Linked DNA regions of Homo sapiens. The protein of the gene in region 1 interacts with the protein of each later gene in a biochemical or structural test. Each region holds a gene or a part of one and is shown in the gene's direction. Other genes may lie near its edges.

Region 1 (5,400 bases):
ATGTGTGTAGTGCGCATGTAGTCATGTGGTGTGTTTCATGTGTGTTTTGTGTGTATGTAACGTAGAATTTGGTGTGTGCGGTGTGTTTCATGTGTGTGGTGTGTATGTAGTTTGTGTGTATGTGTATGTGTGTGGGGTAGTGTGTGTGATGTGTGTTGTGTGCATGCAGTGGTGTGTTTCATGTCTGTTTTGTGTGTGTAGCATGTATGTAGTGTAGCATGTGATGTGTGTAGTGTGTTTCGTGTGTGTGGTATGTATGTAGTTTGTGTGTTTGGTGTGTGTGATGTGCATAGTGTGCATGTAGTACATGGTGTGTGTGTAGTGCAGGTGTGGCATGTGTTCATAGTGTGTGTGGCATGCATGTAGTGTGCATGTGGTATGGAGAGAGTGTGTGTGTGTGTGTGTGTGTGTGTGTGTGTGTGTGTGTACCATGAGGGACATGCGCTTTGCTCCCTGGATAAATGGATGGAGTCATGTAGATAATTTTCCATTCACGACCAGCCCCTTTTGGTTAAAATGTGCCTCCTTGGATACTTTTGGGGCTGGCAATATGTATCCTTCTAGTTTACAACCATGATTGAGAGGGAATACTCTCCATGTTAAATATGCATTGGCCGCCTTTCTTTTTGCTTCTGAAATGTATTTATTTACTGCAAGCAGTGTCTCTCCTGTGTCAGATGTCCTCGTGGGCTGGGAACCGGCACTATCTCTTTAGCACGGGCCCTGCAGATGGGAAGTGGCGTTGCCCAGGAAGTGGTCTGGAGAAGCGGGGAGAAGACAGCCTATGGGCCCCAGGCCTCGGGAGCCAGGGAGGGTGTCACTCTTCATGTCTCAGGCAGTGGCTTGTTGCTATCATAGCCCCGGGCTGGAGGTGGGAAGGCCTTATGGTGACCACAAGTCACAGTTCCGTGTGGGCCCTCAACGTGGCCTCACTTCACCTCTGGGGCTCAGCACCAGCGTGTGACTGACTGCTCGAGGCAGCGTCTCGCAGCTCAGGTGGGTGAGGTGGTGGTAGCGTCCTCCTTGGTAATATCACTGTGATGAGGAGCAAGGCTTCTCTAACATTGTCTGGACTCAGGAGGAGCAGTTGGTTTGTTCTCATGTAGATTCTGCCTCCTGTATGCTGCTGGGACCCTGAGGGTCAGCCCAAGAGTCCTGTTTTGCAATAGCCCTTCTGTTTGCTTCTCTTTGCGGTATGTTTATTTTTAGAATTCTTTGTCTTTCCCCACTCCCCCCAAAAAAGAATTATTTAATTTGGTCACTTCCATCAAATGCTCTGATTTTAGCTTAGTTAGAAGGCATGCTGAAAACTGTAATGATGATGTGAACAGAAAGACAACTGTGTGTTGGGAGGGCCAAAGAGGGAAGTGCCTTTGTTCAGAGATGGGAGGGTTTGTCTCCACTTTGAAAGGGTTTGAGTGGTTTTAGCAAACGTTCCCTGCCACGTGGGGTCCTCACCAAAGTTCTCTGTCTCTGTCTTGCCCAGGTGGACACCTGCGCAGGTGTGTGCCCTCCGGCCCCTGAAGCATGGCCAGCAGCGGCATGGCTGACAGCGCCAACCACCTGCCCTTCTTTTTCGGCAACATCACCCGGGAGGAGGCAGAAGATTACCTGGTCCAGGGGGGCATGAGTGATGGGCTTTATTTGCTGCGCCAGAGCCGCAACTACCTGGGTGGCTTCGCCCTGTCCGTGGCCCACGGGAGGAAGGCACACCACTACACCATCGAGCGGGAGCTGAATGGCACCTACGCCATCGCCGGTGGCAGGACCCATGCCAGCCCCGCCGACCTCTGCCACTACCACTCCCAGGAGTCTGATGGCCTGGTCTGCCTCCTCAAGAAGCCCTTCAACCGGCCCCAAGGGGTGCAGCCCAAGACTGGGCCCTTTGAGGATTTGAAGGAAAACCTCATCAGGGAATATGTGAAGCAGACATGGAACCTGCAGGTGGGCCACAGCTGGTCCTGCTCCCTGGGCCCAGGGGGCCCTGTGACCCCACACAGACTTCCTGGCTACATGCAACACATGTGCCTATGTGCCCTGTGTGCCCAAATAACACAACCATCTCCTTAAGCATCAATTTTGGCCAAAAAATGCCTCTCTCTGATAAGAGCCTTTCCTCTTTCACAGCCACAGCTGAGAGGGTGGGTCCCTTTGTGCCAGCAGTGTGGGTTTCTCCACAGCAGGGAACCACTGTTACCCAGTGCAAGGAGGGCCTTTTCAGAGAGGCATTGATAGGTGTTGATTGGTTTCTGTTTATCTGACAAGGTCCTACCATACACACTGATAGGCACTTGATTTTATGGCTTCCTAATATCTCTTGCAGAACTTTCTGTGTCAACACTCATATAGTTGCATCACCCGTTCTTTGGCTATCTGGTATCACCTGCTATGCACCACAATTTATTTAACTAGTACCTATTGATGGACACATTTGCTGTTTATGAATAAACGCTGCTAACAACATTGCTCTAGACCTATCGTATACTACACTTGTATGCAACGTCTGCAGGATAAACTTTGAAAGGGTTGGGATTGCCACAGCAAAGGATATGTGTGTTTATTTTTTTATTTTTTATTTTTTTGAGACAGAGTCTTGCTCTGTCACCCAGGCTGGAGTGCAGTGGCATGATCTCAGCTCAATGCAACCTCTGGCTCCAAGGTTCAAGCGATTCTACTGCCTCAGCCTCCCAAGTAGCTGGGATTACAGGCATGTGCCACCACACCTGGCTAATTTTTGTATTTTTAGTAGAGATGGGGTTTCACCATGCTGGCCAGGCTGGTCTCGAACTCCTGACCTCAAGTGAACCATCCTCCTTGGCCTCCCAAAATACTGGGATTATAAGCGTGAGCCACCGTGCCCGGCCATGTTATTTTTATTTATACACTTGAAAGTACTTAAGTAATGTGTAAAGGTCTTTCTGGTTTTATTTACTGAATGAATGAGTGAATAAGTTTTGATCCTGTTTTACCATGCCAGGACTCGAGATAGATTGGAAATGCCTTCTGCATCATTTTCATTTTTCCTCGGTATGGTTTACTCTGCTTTGCTCTCCATGTGGCAGGGTCAGGCTCTGGAGCAGGCCATCATCAGTCAGAAGCCTCAGCTGGAGAAGCTGATCGCTACCACAGCCCATGAAAAAATGCCTTGGTTCCATGGAAAAATCTCTCGGGAAGAATCTGAGCAAATTGTCCTGATAGGATCAAAGACAAATGGAAAGTTCCTGTGAGTATCGTGCCTTCCCCCTCACCTCCTGCCACCAGGCCTGTGTGGACAATTGGGAATAATTCAGCTTCCTTGTGACTGGCCCCACATGACCCTGGGAAGAGGCCATGCATTGCCATTTGACAACATGCATGCTGGCCTGTTCTAAAGACATTTCTAACCAAAGCTATCACTTGTGACCCAGTGTTTATTTTGCCCAGTCTAACTCTAAAATGAACACTCTTTTTGGGCACCGAGGGATGTAATATTTAAAGAAAATGTGATTCAGCCCCATATTCTCCTTTTAATGGCAAATTATAGGTTGCATAGCACATTCTGTGGTTATCCAACTAAAATTAAAATACTGCAGTTTTTTTACTCAAACTACCCCCTTGATCTCAGACTTTACTTCTATTTTACATGAAACAAGATGCCAACAGGAAAGATGTTAAGGAAAAGTTCCTGGGAGTAGCATCCATGAGTGGTGAGTGCAGGTTTGAAGACTTCAGCCTTAGGCCCACAGTCATTAGAGGGTCTGTCTGAATCCTGGGTTCTGTTTGCTATCCTCAGTGGTTCAGTGTAAATCTAAATTGTAGAAGGTTCTGAGATACAGGCCAACGTGGTCAGTCAGTTGTCCAGAGAAGGTAAAGAACTGTCTTTGGGAGGTGTCAACCTTGTTCCCTCGAGGGGGTCTGGTCAAGGTGGCTCAGTGGGGCAGTTGTCCCTGGGGGAAATGATCCCCTGGTCACCTCTCAGTGTCCCTACAGAGATGCTTACCTTGGAAACATAACCAGAAACAGCGATGCAGCCTCATGGTTTGGCAATTGGTGAATCCCCAGCCGACTTCGTAAACTTTTCCTAGATTTAGAAGCGTTTTCTCTGCCTGTCCATCTATTCAAAGGAATTTCCTCAGACTTCACTGTCATACCTTGTATTTTAAAAATGATCTTAGCTGAGTGCAGTGGCACGCACCTGTAGTCCCAGCTACTCCTGGCAGGAGGATCGCTTCATCCTCACTATGATCTCACTATCGTTTGAGGCTAGTTTGAGACCAGCCTGGGCAACATAGTGAGGCCCTGTCTCAAAAAAAGAAAAAAAGAAAAGAAAAATTGACCACAATACTCTTAAAAAAAAAAAAAAAAAAGGAAGAAGGAAGAGTGGCCCAGGTTGCCACGCGGCAGTGCCTAGAGTGATGGTCTTTAGTGGGATGCAGCCCCAGCCAGCAGCAGAATGCTGTGGGGAGGGAAGACATTGCCCCTCAGTGGAGGCACCTATGGCTATTTTTGCTGAGGTTTGGCTTCTTACCATCTCAGCAATAATTTCCAACATGAATGTCATGGGACCATGCACATAGCATCTTGGCATGTGAAGTCAACCCAAAATAGCATAATCCACACGATGAGGCTGGCCAACTTCTGCTGGTTAAGAAGCCTGCTCATAGCCTCTTTGGCCACGAAGCTGTTTCTTTTTTCGGAGTTGTCTATTCCCGAAAACAGCAGTTGCATCCTTCATGGCCATGACTTTTGCTCTCTCCTTCCTTTCTGGGAGATGTATATAAACCCCATGCAGAAGGCTGGGAGGTGCAGCTCTTGTTTGATGAACATGCCTTGTTCCCTATCTGCCCTGTACAGACTGACATCTCATGTGTCCTCACAGCACATGTCCCTGACACTGAGGCTTATGGTTTATGCAAGAGAGTCTCAAACTTGCCGTGCTTCCTATTCAGCTGGTGTCAGAGCTAACCAGGCATGGGCCTGTGAGAGAGGGGCCTGGGCTTCTGTGTTTTCATCGAGCACCCTCTCCTTAGTTGTCTTCTTCTCCTGGGTTCTTATTCCTGGGTTCTTATTCTCCTGGGTTCTTATTCCACTTTATATTGCAGTTGTCCAGTTATCACCCCATAATTGCCAACCTCCCAGATAATAGCTTCCAAGGCTTTCTCCCTTGTGTTGTCCACAGCTCAGTCCCACACCTTCCCGTGCTCCCTCCACACCTGCAGGGCTCACCTGTGGACTGATGGTGCATAGCACCCCATGCCCAGGCCTGGCATCAGGCAGGGTATTAGTGAGAGGGAAGAGCAGAGCTAAGCCTGGGCAGCAAGACCCAGCTTCAGAACCCATGTTCCCATGATGGTTGTAGAACCTTAGACTAAGGGAAACTTTCCCCAGGCTCTGCTCCTCTGGGTCTGTGACTGTCTTGAG
Region 2 (4,450 bases), on another chromosome or scaffold:
TAGGTAATGCGTTTTCCTCTCTGGGTGCCTCCCATTTTCTGGCTCAAGTCCCTGCCCAGGATCAAGCTTGGAGGAGGGCCCCGAGGGAGGGGCCACAGAGACTGGGTGAAGAGCAAGGGTGTTTGTCCCAGGAGCATGGCGAAAATTGCTGCTGGGTGGCCTTGGGAAGCACAAAGGGGACCCAACTAAGGGCCTGATCCTACTGCCCTGGGGGTGTCAGTGCCAGCCCCCCACAAATCTTTTCTGCCCCCCCCAGGAGGCTGACCAGTGTGTGGCCTGTGCCCACTATAAGGACCCTCCCTTCTGCGTGGCCCGCTGCCCCAGCGGTGTGAAACCTGACCTCTCCTACATGCCCATCTGGAAGTTTCCAGATGAGGAGGGCGCATGCCAGCCTTGCCCCATCAACTGCACCCACTCGTGAGTCCAACGGTCTTTTCTGCAGAAAGGAGGACTTTCCTTTCAGGGGTCTTTCTGGGGCTCTTACTATAAAAGGGGACCAACTCTCCCTTTGTCATATCTTGTTTCTGATGACAAAAATAACACATTGTTAAAATTGTAAAATTAAAACATGAAATATAAATTAATGCCCTAGCAGTTCTATCCCCACTGTTAATAATTTGAAATATTTTTCCTCTAGTTATTTTTGTCTGTGCACATTCTAATATGTATATATAAGTTAACATATATTAATATTATTCTCCAGTTATTTTTATCTGTGCACATTTTAACACACACACACACACACACACACACACACATATGTATTTTTAGACGGAGTTTCACTCTGTCGCCCAGGCTGGAGTGCAGTAGTACAATCTTGGCTCACTGCAGCCTCCACCTCCTGGGTTTAAGCAATTCTCCTGCTTCCGCCTCCTGAGTAGCTGGGATTACGGGAACGTGCTACCTTGCCTGGCTAATTTTTGTATTTTTAGTACATAGGATTTCACCATGTTGGCCAGGCTGGTCTCGAACCCCTGACCTCAGGTGATCTGCCAGCCTCGGTCCCCCAAAGTGTTGGGATTACAGCGGTGAGCCACCATGCCCAGTCATATATTTCTTTTTAACAAATAGAATCATAGATCATACATATTGTTTGCAAATTGCTTTTTCTCACTTTCCAGAACCTTGAAATGTTTTTCCATGTTCTAACATGGTGATCTACCTTATTCTTTTAATTTTTCTTATTTAGTTGTCTTTACACATGAAACACATGAATACATCCTTGTGATAAACATTTTCAGTAACATAAAAGTATAAATGTTACAAAGCCAACGTGCCCTTTCACTCAACTCCCTGTCCACCCAGTCTCTCCTGTCTGCTGGGAGAACCACCGCATTGACTTGTGTGTTCACCCTTCCAGGCTCTTTTCTGCACACTTATATAGACATACTACATTTATATTAGGTCGAGTCAAATAAGATTGCTGTTTGTGTAAACCAAAAAGTGTCAAGAGCCTGGGCGCAGTGACTCACACCTGTAATCCCAGCACTTTGGGAGGCTGAGGCAGGCAGATCACTTGAGATCAGGAGTTCGAGACCAATCTGGCCAACATAGCGAGACCCCGTCTCTACTAAAAATACAAAAACTAGCCAGGTGTGGTGATGCTGTTCTGCACTTTGCTTTCCCCCCGACTTGAGGTATCCTTTCTTGTGAGTACAGACGGATCTACCACCTTTATTTTTTTTTTAATTACTCAACCTGTAACATGGATGTAATTTCACTTTGTTTTTGAGGGATATTGAGCTTGTTTCCCTGTTTTTGCAGTTTATTGCAATTGAGCTCCACACACAAGTGAGCCCTCTTTTGTATGCCCCCTAGTGGGAATACAGTGCTGGCAATGTTTATCACAAGGATATATTCATGCATTTCAATTTAAAGACAACTAAATGAGAAAAATTAAAAGAATATGGATCCAGGCTGGGCATGGTGGCTCACGCCTGTAATCCCAGCACTTTGGGAGGCCGAGGCAGGCAGATCACCTGAGGTCAGGAGTTCAAGACCAGCCTGGCCAACATGGCAAAACCCCGTCTCTACTAAAAATACAAAAATTAGCCAGGCGTGGTGGTGGGCGCCTGTAATCCCAGCTATTTGAGAGGTTGAGACAGGAGAATTGCTTGAACCTGGGCAGCGGAGGTTGCAGTGAGACGAGATTGCACCAGTGCACTCCAACCTGGGCAACACAGTGCAACTCCTTCTCAAGAAAAAAAAGAAAAAAAAAAAGAATATGGGTCCAGATCCATATGGATCCTAGATCCAGATCACGGTGTTAGAACATGGAAAAACATTGCAAGATTCTGCTAAGTGAAAAAAGCATTTGCAAACAGTATGTACAGTCTATATTCAGAGGAGGAACTGCTGGGTCATAGATGATATTTCATAGGTATTGCCAAACCGTTCTCTGGAGAAGTGGTATGGGTTTACCCTGGGATTCTTCTATGGAGGGAATAGTTGAGCTCCCGGGCTTGCTCTTCTGGGTGCCCCTCCCCGCTTCCTATCCACCACAAGGAGCTGCAGGGGAGCGGGGCATGCCGGTTCCTTGGCTGGAGAAGGAGTCTCCTTGTGAGGTGGTAGAAGGAGCACTGACGGCCTTGAGCCCAGTTTCTGCCTTTGTCAAATGGGGATAATGACCCAGCCACACCCCTCCCAGGGTTGTTGTGAGGCTGGAAAGGTGGTTCCCAAGAGGGTGGTTCCCAGAATTGTTGATGAGACTGTTTCTCCTGCAGCTGTGTGGACCTGGATGACAAGGGCTGCCCCGCCGAGCAGAGAGCCAGGTTGGCCTGGACCCCAGGATGTACCCTTCATTGCCCTTCACTCCCCCACTGGATGCTGGGTGGTCACTGCTGTAGGGAGGGGACCCCCTGACATATGTCCCTTCCCACCCACTCTTCCACTGTGGAACCTCCTGTCATTTTCCACTTCACCAAGTGACAGAGGACCTGCTCAGATGCTGAGGGGAGGGGACTGCAAGGAAAGATGGCTAGGAAACCCAGTCCCTCCACACCCTAGAGTAACTTGATGCCTTGTGAGGGACACAGGCAAAGTTCAATTCCTTGGAAGTCAAGGGAGACTGAGAAGAGTACAGCTGCAGCACTGAGGGAGTGATGAATTCTTAACTGGGGATGGTGGGAGGCTTCGAGTGGGAGGTGGCATTTGAGCTAGGCTTTGAGAGAGGAGCAGGTATTGCACTTGCATTTAGGTAGAAAGCATTGGGGTGCAAGGTGACACTGGAGGGGGAGGCATCAGGAAATCCAGGATGTCTTCAAAGTTCTGGTGTCGGGGGCTGTTGAGTAAGCACAGGAATAAGGGGGTCAAGTTAGAGTCAGGGTGGGGTCTGACCTGGATGCCATAGGACCTGATCCCCAAGCCACAGGGTGGGACTTGACTGGGCAGTGGGGACCTTTGGAAAGGACTTTGGGGAGAAAAACAGACTGGAGTCTGTCTTAGGCGATCATCGGTCCGTGAAATGAGCATGTGTTACAGGCTTGGTATGTACCAGACCCTGTGCTAAGCAAGGGGGTATGGAGAGGAGAGGGTGACAAGAATATTGGATCAACACCCGGGAGCTCCATCTATCCCAGGATGCACTATCTTTTTTTTATTTTTTTGAGACGGAGTCTCACTCTGCCTGCAGGCTGGAGTGCAGTGGCTCCATCTCGGTTCACTGCAACCTCTGCCTCCTGGGTTCAAGCGCTTCTTGTGCCTCAGCCTCCCAAGTAGCTGGGATTACAGGCACATGCCACCACACCCAGCTAATTTTTGTATTTTTAGTAGAGACGGGGTTTCACCATGTTGGCCAGGATGGTCTCGATCTCTTGACCTCAAGATCCGCCCACCTTGGCCTCCCAAAGTGCTGGGATTACAGACATGAGCCACCGTGCCCAGCCAGATACGCTATCTTTTTATTGAGTGATTGAGACAGGGTCTTGCTCTCTTGTCCAGTCTTGAATGTGGTGGTGTAATCACAGGCTCACTGCAGCCTTGACCTCCTGGGCTCAAGTTACCCTTCTGCAGTAGCTGGGACTATAGGAGCGTGCCACCACGCCTGGGTAATTTAAAAAATTTTTTTTGTATAGACAGGGTCTCACTATGTTGCCCGAGCTGGTCTCAAACTCGTGGGCTCAAGTGATCCTCCAGTTTTGGCCTCCCAAAATGTTGGGATCACAGGAGTGAGCCACCACTCCTGGCGATGAGCCAAGTCTTTTTTTTTTTTTTTTTTTTTTGATATGGAGTCTTGCTCTGTTGCCCAGGCTGGAGTGCAATGACACGATCTTGGCTCACTGCAACCTCTGCCTCCCAGGTTCAAGCAGTTCAAGCAATCCTCCTGTCTCAGCCCCCCAGTAGCTGGGATTACAGGCATGCGCTACCACGTCCGGCTAATTTTTGTATTTTTAGTAGAGATGAGGTTTTGCCATGTTGGCCAGGCTGGTCTTGAACTGCTGACCTCAGGTGA

What was found. Proteins that work in one complex are often made in the same cells at the same time.
Region 2: the proteins of SYK (region 1) and ERBB2 form a complex in vitro, tested with the Homo sapiens proteins (2 studies listed by BioGRID and IntAct, with this or other methods).

What each region holds. Positions count from the first base shown.
Region 1 is NC_000009.12:90,842,372-90,847,771, forward strand, and holds part of SYK (tyrosine-protein kinase SYK), read left to right. Parts: intron 1-1,486; 5' UTR 1,487-1,527; coding exon 1,528-1,944; intron 1,945-3,062; coding exon 3,063-3,223; intron 3,224-5,400. UniProt on the Homo sapiens protein: Non-receptor tyrosine kinase which mediates signal transduction downstream of a variety of transmembrane receptors including classical immunoreceptors like the B-cell receptor (BCR).
Region 2 is NC_000017.11:39,717,064-39,721,513, forward strand, and holds part of ERBB2 (receptor tyrosine-protein kinase erbB-2 isoform a precursor), read left to right. Parts: intron 1-3; coding exon of another isoform or gene 4-105; intron 106-256; coding exon 257-417; coding exon of another isoform or gene 418-421; exon of another isoform or gene 422-594; intron 595-2,723; coding exon 2,724-2,771; intron 2,772-4,450. UniProt on the Homo sapiens protein: Protein tyrosine kinase that is part of several cell surface receptor complexes, but that apparently needs a coreceptor for ligand binding. Essential component of a neuregulin-receptor complex, although neuregulins do not interact with it alone.